Regions from separate parts of the Homo sapiens genome. Here region 1 is linked to region 2. Evidence: fine-mapped QTL for protein levels in blood plasma. A gene starts in region 2. The other region holds a variant in brackets. All regions are shown on one strand. Distances are between the middles of the regions.

Region 1 (5,393 bases), 10 kb before region 2:
GTGTTCTACACCCCGGGGGAATCGGCAGTGCAGTGCACTGGGGAGGCTGCCTCCAGTCAAAGGGAGCCAAAACGCAAGCTCCCCAGAGCCTGACAGCCACTTGAGTGAGGTCGCTGCCACTGACAGCCACCCCGACTCCCAATAGCAAAGCAGCTGCGCACCGACAGGCTTTCTCCACCCACTGCCATCTCCACAGCCGGGACTGCCACCACCCAAGCACGCCGCTGGGAGGCGCCTGGGGATTGCCCACTCTGCCAACCACAGCCTGAGCCCTGAGCACAACATAGGGGATTGGGTTGTCTGAGGGTAGGACCACACCACCAAGCAAAGCCTCTCCCAGTGCCTGAGCACACTGCCCAGGGGCCTGGGGATCCATGGCCCTGTCCCACCCGTAGCTCCGCGTATGCTCCTGCACCATCAGGAGGCCTGACTGAAGACCCAGCCTGGCTGCTCGCAAGCCCCACCTACCACAGCCTGTGTGCACCATCAGGAGGCCTGAGGTTGGACCCGCAAAGCCTGGTACGGCCCACAAGTGCCCAAGTGCATCATTCAGTGGCCTGGGGACCGCCTTTCCACCACCGCTGACATCTGCACTCCTTTGGGGGCCCGAGGGCTGCCCGCCCAGCCCACCCTTTGCTGCCACCATAAAAGGTTATTGTAATGGAGGTAAAGAGTAGAATGATAGTTACTAGCAGCTGTGAAGGATGTGTGTGTGTGTGTGTGGGAGGGGGGAGGTATGCAAACATACAATTAGAAGGAATAAGTTCTAGTGTTCAACAGAATAGTAGAGTGACTATAGTTAACGACGATGTATTTTATATTTCAAAATAGTTATGAGAAGATTTGAAGTGTTCCCAACACAAAGAAATAATAAATGCTTGAGGTGATGGATATCCTAAACACCCTGACTTGATAATTACACAACCGATGCATGTATCAAAATATGACATGTACCTTAGAGATACATGAAAATATTATGTACCAATAAGAATATAAAAAAGAAATAAAATGAAACAAGAATACTTTTCTTATAAATCATGATGATAACAAGAACTATAGAAATTGCACCTTCAAATTAACTTGACAAGGCAAATCCTACCTATTTTCTAATATACTACTTTCTAGCTTAAATGTAAAAAGCCAGTTATTTCAATGAATTCAAAATTTATTTGTGGAAGTAACAGAAATGTCTCAACATGCTATGGTTTGATTAATCATTTCTACACTAACTTCTGAGAGAAGATTTGACAAGAGGACTCTGGGATAGGAGCTATCTATATCCAGGATGATTCTATCTGAGCCGCAGATGGACTTCTGTGGATTTTTTGTGTGGTTGAGGTCTATTTCTCTGTCAGCAGATACCACTTGAGTAGCAGGAGACAAGGTATAGCTTGCTACGCACTCCATCTTTCTTTTCTTTGACTCTGTCCAGCTAATTGTACAAAGTGTGTGGATCAAGCAATGACCTAGATTATCATTATATTGGATCCAAGTTATTGGTGTGTTTCTTGGGTTGGCCTAGCATTGTATTTACCAAGACTATGAGGAAAGTGGTGCTAAAATACGCTCCTGTAAATCTCCTGGCTTCCAGGCATAGTCCTTACCACAATGTGTAAGAGCAACCCAATTTCTGCCTGTATGGCTGCTGCGGCTGCTGCTGCTTCTTATTCCTCTTCTTATTCTTCTTCTTTTGAGATGGAGTTTCACTCTTGTTGCCCAGGCTGGAGTGCAATGGCGTGATCTCAGCTCACTGAAACCTCCGCCTCCTGGATTCAAGTGATTCTCCTGCTTCAGCCTCCTGAATAGCTGGGATTACAGGCACACGCCACCACGCCTAGCTGATTTTGTATTTTTAGTAGAGATGGGGTTTCTCCAGGTTGGTCAGGCTGGTCTCGAACTCCTGATCTCAGGTGATCTGCCCGCCTCGGCCTCCCAAAGTGCTGAGATTAAACTGTGAGCCACTGCGCCTGGCCACAGCAATCTTCTTCTCTGCCAGCTGCTTCAATGACTGCGGAGCCCAACGTGCAACAAGGAAGTCTCATCTTCCTGTTCATCAGGATAATGGTCATATTCCTTATTAGAATAATCTTGCCATAGGCATTAGAACCTCTAAACCCAGCACAAACAAGATCTTGGGAAAAGGAGACAATTTTCAAGTGAATTATTAGGTGTACTAGTACAAGGCTACTCCAAATCTGAATCCTAACTCTATGCTTTTGTTCCCATACCTGTACATTCTGGCTATGGCAGAGACAGCAACATATATTGGTAAGGCAAATACCCCCTCTTAAAAAACTGAATCCCACACTTGCAAGCTGTTTTATTCCAACTGGTGTCATTAGTGTGCTTTCAGGAAGTCATTTCAATACCCTGGTTAGCCAGTTACTTAGGGGCAAGTAACTTCTTTTTTTTTTTTTGAGATGCAGAAAACATTCTATTTTTTGATTACATGGCTCAGATAGTTTCATTCAGTGTCATCAGCAATGAACTTCATGAAACATGTTCATCTTTCCTGTCTAGGTAGATGTCACAGTAGCCCTGGTTTTTAAGTGTTGCCTCTAAAACTTGTCCTCTTTCCAGCATTCTCTTCTTTTTTTTTTTTTTTTTTGAGACGGAGTCTCACTCTGTCTCCCAGGCTGGAGTGCAGTGGCGCGATCTCGGCTCACTGCAATCTCCGCCTCTCAGGTTCACGCCATTCTCCTGCCTCAGCCTTCCAAGTAGCTGGGCCCAACACCATGCCCGGCTAATATTTTTTTTTCTTTTGTATTTTTATTAGAGATGGGGTTTCACCGTGTTAGCCAGGGTGGTCTCGATCTGCTGACCTCGTGATCCGCCCGCCTCAGCCTCCCATCCAGCATTCTCTTCTTTCTCTCAACCTGCCACTATTGAAAACTCACTTTTCTTTTGCATTTTGTCCTACGTGTGAAAACTATTGAGCTGAAGTAAGACCCAAGGTAGATCCCAAGGGCTTCAGATCTACCCTGTCAAGGGCACAGAATGGTTAGCAATAGAGCCCCTTGTTAAGGTCAATCATGGTTAATAACATGAATGTTAAATTCTAATATTACTTAACAGTATCTAAATTCTAATATCCTTAATTTCACAAAAACAAACTTTTCTAACACTTCTTACCAGTAAAGGATTTAGCTCACACGAATATACTCTCAGATAACCTTAAGAATTCTGCCTTGCTTTGTAATTCCTGCCAGTGCTGCATAAGCCAGCAGTTCTCAGCATCTTTTTATTCTAGCTGATCTCTAGTTTCTCTGGTAGCTTTTTATCACAGACGGAGCTGTTAAACAGGTCGTAGATTCTCTGAACC[A/G]GTTCATCCTTATTTCGCTTGAGATTTTTTTCCAGAGTACTGTTTTGACTTTTCAAGGTCAAGCAAGAAACATCCAGGGACTTTGCGCTTATGAGTCCTAGTCTTGCATTTTTCAACTTTGGCCACACCGGGTTTCTTCTTTGAAGGTCCACGGTTTTTCTGTCCCTTACCAGCAGGTGTTACAGATACATTTTTGGTCTTTGCCTTCCTCTTCCTCAGTGGCTCCACTATATTTTTGGTCTTTGCCTGTCTTTTCCTCAGTCACCCCATGATATTTTTTGGTCTTTGCCTTCCTTTTCCTTGATTATTCCACCACAGGTGCAGGCACTTCCTCAGTTGGCAGCTTCCTCTCTGAAACCTCAAGTTTAGTCTCAGGATCACCTGGTGGTTCACTAAGATTCTCACCAAGATCATGCTCAACCAGCATCATCAGATGAATCATGCTGGCAGACAGCAGCCTCATCCAGCTCTTCTTCATCTGAGGCAGTTTGGTCCTCATCATACGAATCTTCTGCTGGCACAGAAACTTCCAAATCATTACTGTCATCATTGTCATCATCACCATCACTAATAACTATTGGAGGGTTCCTGGATGGTGGGCTGCACATAACAACACTCCAGACTCTCATCGTCACTGCTTATTTAGAATATCTTAGCTTTCTTCTCCTCATAGGAGTAGCATTCATCATCAGAGTCAGAGTTGATCACTACCATAGAGCTGGACTGTCTCTTCTGAGCTCTTCTGGCCATAGAAGACCCGTGGTTCTCATCACTGCTTGAATCAACGTTAAGGATGTATCAATTCTCCTCTGGGTTGTGCAAGTGGCACAGCTCTTCTTTGTACCTGTCCATGTCTGGTCTTGCAGCCTCTGGTGTGGCCAGCGGCAGCTCACCTCCAACTGCCCATGGAATGTGTGTGAGATCCTGAGCAACTGGGCAAGTAACTTCTATAGGCATGAACTGATTGTCAATCTTTCTTTGTTGTAAAATGTCAAATACAATATTGTGTGAGGAACCATGACAATGGATAAGACATTCTGTAACTCTTAAGTATTGATGTTAGTAGAAGCACTGTAGGCATAGAAGGCAAATCTGTTCCTAAAATATGTGATTGTTCCTATGAAGACCAAGCAGCATCTAGTCCAAGATTAAAGAGACTTAAGTAATAAATCTGCCCTTAGGTGACTGGCTGGTAAATCTCCTGGTTCCAGGCATAGTCCATGCCAAAATGAAAATGTTTTCCCCCTAAATTTTGCTTTTATTTATTTATTTTTGTATTTAGAATTAGTCTTAGAATGCCAAAAAAATTGTCAGTATTTTTTTGTCTTCTTCAAGTTATAATATTGAGCAAGTGCAGGTAGCCAACTAGAAGCAGCTAGTGTGTGCTGTTCTCACAGGAGAAATAGAAGGGGCTAGTAAATACAGCACCTTCAACTGAAGCATCCAGTTACACACATTGGGATTCATCAAGAAAACAACTCAATCCGTGGAGGATGAAGTAAAGCAAGGCAGGACGACTGCCCACCCGGGAGCAACATGGAGCCAGGGGAGCCTTCCCCACCCAGGGAAGCAGTGAGTGACTGAGCACCTGGGGGAGCACAATTCTCCCATGGATCTTTGCAACCCTTGGGTCAGGAGATCCCCTTGTGAACCCATCCCACAAAGGCCTGCAGTCTGACACACAGAGCTACAGGGAGTCCTGGAAGAGTAGCCTCTCAGGCACACGCAGAGCCCTGGGAGCCTTAGATACCAGGGCTTCCCAGCAAAAGTGGCTGGGAATTTAGACATCTCTACATCCCTAGGAAAGGGGCTGAATCCAAGGGGCTGAGCAGGGATTGTCCGCAGGCCCTGCTTCCATGGCACCTCACAGGATAAGACCCTCTGGCTTGGAACTCCAGCCAGCCACTGGTAGCAAGGTTATACCTCCCCTGAGATGAATCTCTCAGAAGGAGGGGCTGGACATCATTTTTGCTGTTTTGCAGCCTTAGCCATTGTTGCCAAAATCCAAGGTGACTAAGGATTGGAGAAGCCCCCAAAATAGCACAGCTGCTCTACAGGGAGGCTGCCAGAC
Region 2 (5,393 bases):
ATTCTCAACAAAATACTGACAAACTGAATCCAGCACCACTCAAAGAGCTAATTCACCATGATCAAGTGGACATTATCTCTGGGATGCAAGGTTGGTTCAACATACACAACTCAATAAATATGACTCATTTCATAAACAGAACTAAACACAAAAATCACATGATTATTTCAATAGAAACAGTAAGAGGTTTCAATAAAACCAACACGCTTTCATGTTAAAATCACTCAATAAACTATGTATTGCAGAAACATCTCAAAATAATAAGAGCCAGCTGTAATAAGCCCACAGCCAACATTATCCTGAACAGGTGAAAGCTGGAAGCATTCCCCTTGAAAAGCACAAGACACGAATGCCCACTCTCAACATTCCTATTCAACATAGTATTGGAAATCCTTGCCAGAGCAATCAGGTGAGAGAAAGAAATGAAGGGCATCCAAATAGGAAGAGAGGACGTAAAACTATTCCTGTTTTCAGACCATATGATTATATACCTAGAAAACCCCATACTCTTGGCCAAAAAGCTCCTTCAACTGATAAACAACATCAGCAAAGTTTCAGGATACAAAATCAACATACAAAAATCACCAACATTCCTGTACACCTATACACAACACCCAAGCTGACAGCCAAATCAGGAATGCAATTCCATTTATGATAGCCACAAAAACAATAAAATACATAGGAATACAGTCAACCAGGGAGGTGAAAGAGCTCTACAAGGATAATTACAAAACATTGCTTAAAGAAATCAGAGATGACACAAACAAATGAAAAACATTCCATGCTCATGGATCAGAATAATAAATATCATTAAAATGGTCATATTGCCCAAAGCAATTTACAGATTTAATGCTATTCCTATCATACTACCAATGACATTCTTCACAGAACTAGAAGAAAACTATTTTAAAATTCATCTGGAACAGAAAAATTAGCCCAAATAGCCAAGGCAATCCTAAGCAAAAAGAACAACACTGGAGGCATCACATTGCCCAACTTCAAATTATACTACAGTACTACAATATCCAAAATAACAAGGTACTGGTAAAAAAAAAAAAAAAAGCAGACACATAGACCATTGGAACACAATGGTCTAATGCAGACACATAGACCACTGGACAGAAAGCCCAGAAATAGTGCTGCACAACTACACCCATCTGATCTTCAGCAAAGCTGACAAAAACAAGCCATGGGAAAAGGATTCCCTTTTTAATAAATGGTGCTGAGATAACTGGCTAGCCACATGCTGAAGATTGAAAGTGGACCCCTTCCTTATACCATATACAAAGCTCAACTCAAGATGGATAAAATACTTATGTCTAAAACCCCAAAATATAAAAAACCCTGGAAGATAACCTAGGAATTACCATCCTGGACACAGGAATGGGCAAATATTTCATGACAAAGATGCCAAAAGCAATTGCAACAAAAGTGAAACAAAACAAAACAAACAAACAAAATAATTAACTGTAAGAGCTTCTGCACAGCAAGAGAAACTATCAACAGAGTGAACAGATAATCTACAGAATGGGAGAAAATTTTTGCAGACTATGCATTTGACAAAGGTCTAATATCCAGCATCTGTAAGAAACTTAAACCAATCAACAAGCAAAAAATAAACAACCCCATTAAAAAGTGGACTAAGGACATGAACAGATACTTTTCGTGTTTTATTTATCAATCTTAATTTACTTCTTATCCATTTGGAGTGTCAAATAATGGCCAAAGAAATTGTAATTATAAATTAAAGAACAAAATTTAGCAAGTAAAAATAAACAAAAATAACACAAAAATGTATTATCCTTTTACTTTTGTCATTAAGCAACAAATATATTTCTGATAATTTGTCAAATATTTTCTCCTTGAATTAATAGTTTATCTTATTTAAAAGGGTATATTGTGTTTTTAAAATTTTATTTTAAATTTGGGAGTACATGTGCAAATTTGTTACATAGGTAAACTTGTGTAATGGGGGTTTGCTGTAAAGATTATTTCTTCACCCAGGTATTAACCCTAGTACCCATTAGTTATTTTTCCTGATCCTTTCCCTCTTCCCACCCTCTATCCTCCAGTAGGCACTAATCATTAGGGAAATGCAAATTAAAACCACAGTAAGATACCATCTCATACCAGTCGAATGGCTATTATTAAAAAGTCAAAAAATAACAGATGCTGATGAGGTAGTGGAGAAAAGGGTTCACTTATACACCTTTGATGGGAGTGTAAATTAGTTCAACCATTATGAAAGATAGCATGGTGATTCCTTAAAGACCTAAAACCAGAAATTTGACCCAGCAATCCCATTACTGGTATATACCCAAAGGAATATAAATCTATCATAAAGACACATGCATGCATCTGTTCATGGCAGCACTGTTGACAATAGCAAAGACATGCAATCAACCTAAATGCCCATCAATGGTAGACTGGATAAAGAAAATGTGATACACATATACAAAGGAATACTATGCAGCTATAAAAAAGAATGAGATGATGTCCATTGCAGGAACATAGATGAAGCTAGAGGCCGTTACCCTTAACAAACTAATGGAGGAACAGAAAACCAAATACCACATGTTCTCACTAATAATTGGGATCTAAATGATGAGAACACATGTACACATAGAGGAGAATGACAGACACCGGAGCCTACTTGAAGGTGGAGGGTGAGAGGAGGGGCAGGATCAGAAAAACATAACTATGTAGTACTAGTCTGAATACCTGGGTGATGAAATAATATGTACAACAAACCCCTGTGACATGATTTTACCTATATAACAAACCTACACATGTAGCCCTGAACCTAAAAGTTAAAAAAAATCAAATTATACTGTTAAATTATTAGCATGATTTATAAACAATATTGTTTTAGGATAAAGAATTTAATTGCTTGGCAATTGCAAATTATTAAATTAAATATCAATATGTTAGGGAGGCTAATTCAAATGATATAAATATTTAGGCTATAACAAAAGGCAGCTATATATTATTAACCTCACCTCAAAAAGGGGCATAATTTCCATTCCCTTGACTTTAAGGGTAAATTAAGAGAAATTTGTAAAGCACTCAAAAGAATATTCAATTCAATATGTGGTGGACAGTTGAGAAATTATGTGTTATCTATGTCATGGGAAAGCAACTTTTAAAAAGAAAACATTTCCTCTGAGGTTTTCACAAATAAGTGAAACTGTGAACCCTCATATGTACTGTGAAAGGACAATTTGAGGAGCATCTCTGATTAGCAGCAGATTTATTATTCTTTCCTCATTTCATGTTATACTTAATAAAACAAAACATACCTGTATACACACACATTCACTCACATTGAAGATGCAAGATGAAGAAAGATACATGACATTGAATGTACAGTCAAAGAAAAGGAGTTCTGCCCAAACATCTCAACTTACATTTAAAGGTATGGAATTTAATTTCATTTTTTCAATTGGTGTGAATTAACATGGTAGTTTCCCGTATCCTGTTCCATTGTGTTATTGGACTGTTTCAGTATTTGGGTGCTTTTCTTTCTCCGTCTCTGTATCTCTCTCACCTGTCCTCTCTTTCAATATTAATAATGATTTAAAAATAACAACCTCTCTTACCATTTAAGAAACACCAGTTTCCGGCACTATACAGAATGTTTTATCTATGTTCCTTCATTTAATCTTACAAATTTACTATGAGATAATCTCTCTCTCTCCCATTTATCAATGTGGAACTAACACTTACTTGTAATATTTTGTCTGATATAATTTCTTAAGGACATTCTCTGAGGAAATATGCATACTCAATTAAAATTAATAATTTCAAATTAGTGAATATTTGCTGCCATTCACCTCCTTATCATTCATAGAATATGGTGTTTTAATGCTATTTTTTTTTTTTGAGACGGAGTTTCACTGTTGTTGCCCAGGCTGGAGTGCAATGGCATGATCTCGGCTCACTGCAACCTCTGCCTCCCAGGTTCAAGCAATTCTCCTGCCTCAGCCTCCTGAGTAGCTGAGATTATAGGTGCCCGCCACCATGCCTGGCTAATTTTTTGCGTTTTTAGTAGAGATGGGGTTTTACCATGTTGGCCAGGCTGGTCTTGAACTCCTGACCTCAGGTGATCCACCCACCTGAGTCTTCCAAAGTGTTGGGATTATAGGCATGAGCCACCGCGCCCAGCCTTTAATACTAATTTTTAATTCAACTTCTCAAAAACTTTATGCTTTTCACCAAGTTGACTCAAAATAAAGTTTATACACCAGCAATCAACATTTTAATTTGCTACTTCAAGCATACCCTCCATACACAATGCAATTCCATCATGCCACCTTAATGTGATTTGGCAAAAGAGATAAGCAGAAATTAAAGACACAAATAATCACAGTTATAGAGACTGTCTGTTCTGTTCTGTTGCTTTCTAAATATTTCTCTTTTAATAACTTCACCCATGAAAATTTTACTTATCTCTTGAGTCCTTCCACAAGTATCATCCATCAGTGATTCATCTTAGAGTTACATACGTGCTATGTATAAGAAATTTATTGCCTCTTCCATGTGAATTTTTAGATTCCCATATTTTCAAGTCTTTACTTCCTACACTCAATTTTTATTTCATTTTTGGAAATTAGAGATATTAAACCTGAAAGACTACAACATGTAGTGACTTCTCTGCAGACTTTTTTCCACACTCTGTTCATAAATGTCTCTCTGAAGCAAAAATGTGCAGATTTTCGGCTCCCAGATATTTAAGTGACACATACTAATATTTATGTCTTGTACCTTTAGCTAATATTTATTAAAGCTTGAGGTAAGACGTATTTTATGTGAATTAGATTGACAATGTGAGCCTTGGGGTTATGATGTTCATTCATTTAACTTAATTTTGTGATGACATATTTGTAAATCTTTTCTCATATATTGAAAAACCTTTGTTGCCAGTGATAGTAAGAAATTACATAATTGCTCTATCCCACTATACATATGTAGTAGTTTCAGAATCACTATAGAAATAATATTATAATAATAGTTACTTAAAACAGATTAAAATGTTTTGCGGTTTTAAAAAATCCTTAAGATATATTCCATTGAGCATGCACAGTTAAATGTTTTAAAATCACTTTAAGTAATTCCTCTCTCTATAGTGAAGACACTAACAATACCTAGTTAGATTCCTTTTCTTCATTTTTTATGGATTTTTTTTCATTTTTGTTTAACTTACTTTATAGTAGCATAAAACATTTACATATTTTCAGTCAAACTTATATAATGAGGGGCCAAGTGTGGTGGCTCATGCCATTAATCCCAGCACTTTGGAAGGCCGAGGCAGGATGATCGCTTGAGGCCAGGAGTTCAAGACCTGCCTGGGCAACAAATCAAGACCCCCATCTCTACAAACAATAGAGATAAAA

Which allele goes with the higher level. Alleles are on the strand shown, and positions count from the first base shown. The strength of an association depends on the size of the effect and on how common the allele is.
With allele A in place of G in region 1, the plasma level of the protein whose gene starts at base 3,267 in region 2 is lower (weak association).

The links. A credible set is the group of variants that fine-mapping cannot tell apart. PIP is the posterior inclusion probability: the model's chance that the variant is causal. Protein levels are from antibody-based Olink assays in UK Biobank. Linkage for the fine-mapping came from a reference panel and not from the study's own genotypes, which makes the PIPs less certain.
Region 1: its variant is the best candidate, but not a certain one, in a credible set for the plasma level of the KLRF1 protein (UK Biobank, PIP 0.69).

What each region holds. Positions count from the first base shown.
Region 1 is chr12:9,814,144-9,819,536 of GRCh38, forward strand. It overlaps a transcript of KLRF1 not described here and the pseudogene GCNAP1. Among named protein-coding and RNA genes, the nearest start is that of KLRF1, 11 kb to the right of the region's middle. The variant A/G (reference allele first, on the strand shown) is at 3,323.
Region 2 is chr12:9,824,215-9,829,607 of GRCh38, forward strand. It overlaps KLRF1 (killer cell lectin like receptor F1), which reads left to right and starts at 3,267. Exons shown (of 6, transcript NM_016523.3): 1 at 3,267-3,415. The coding sequence starts at 3,331.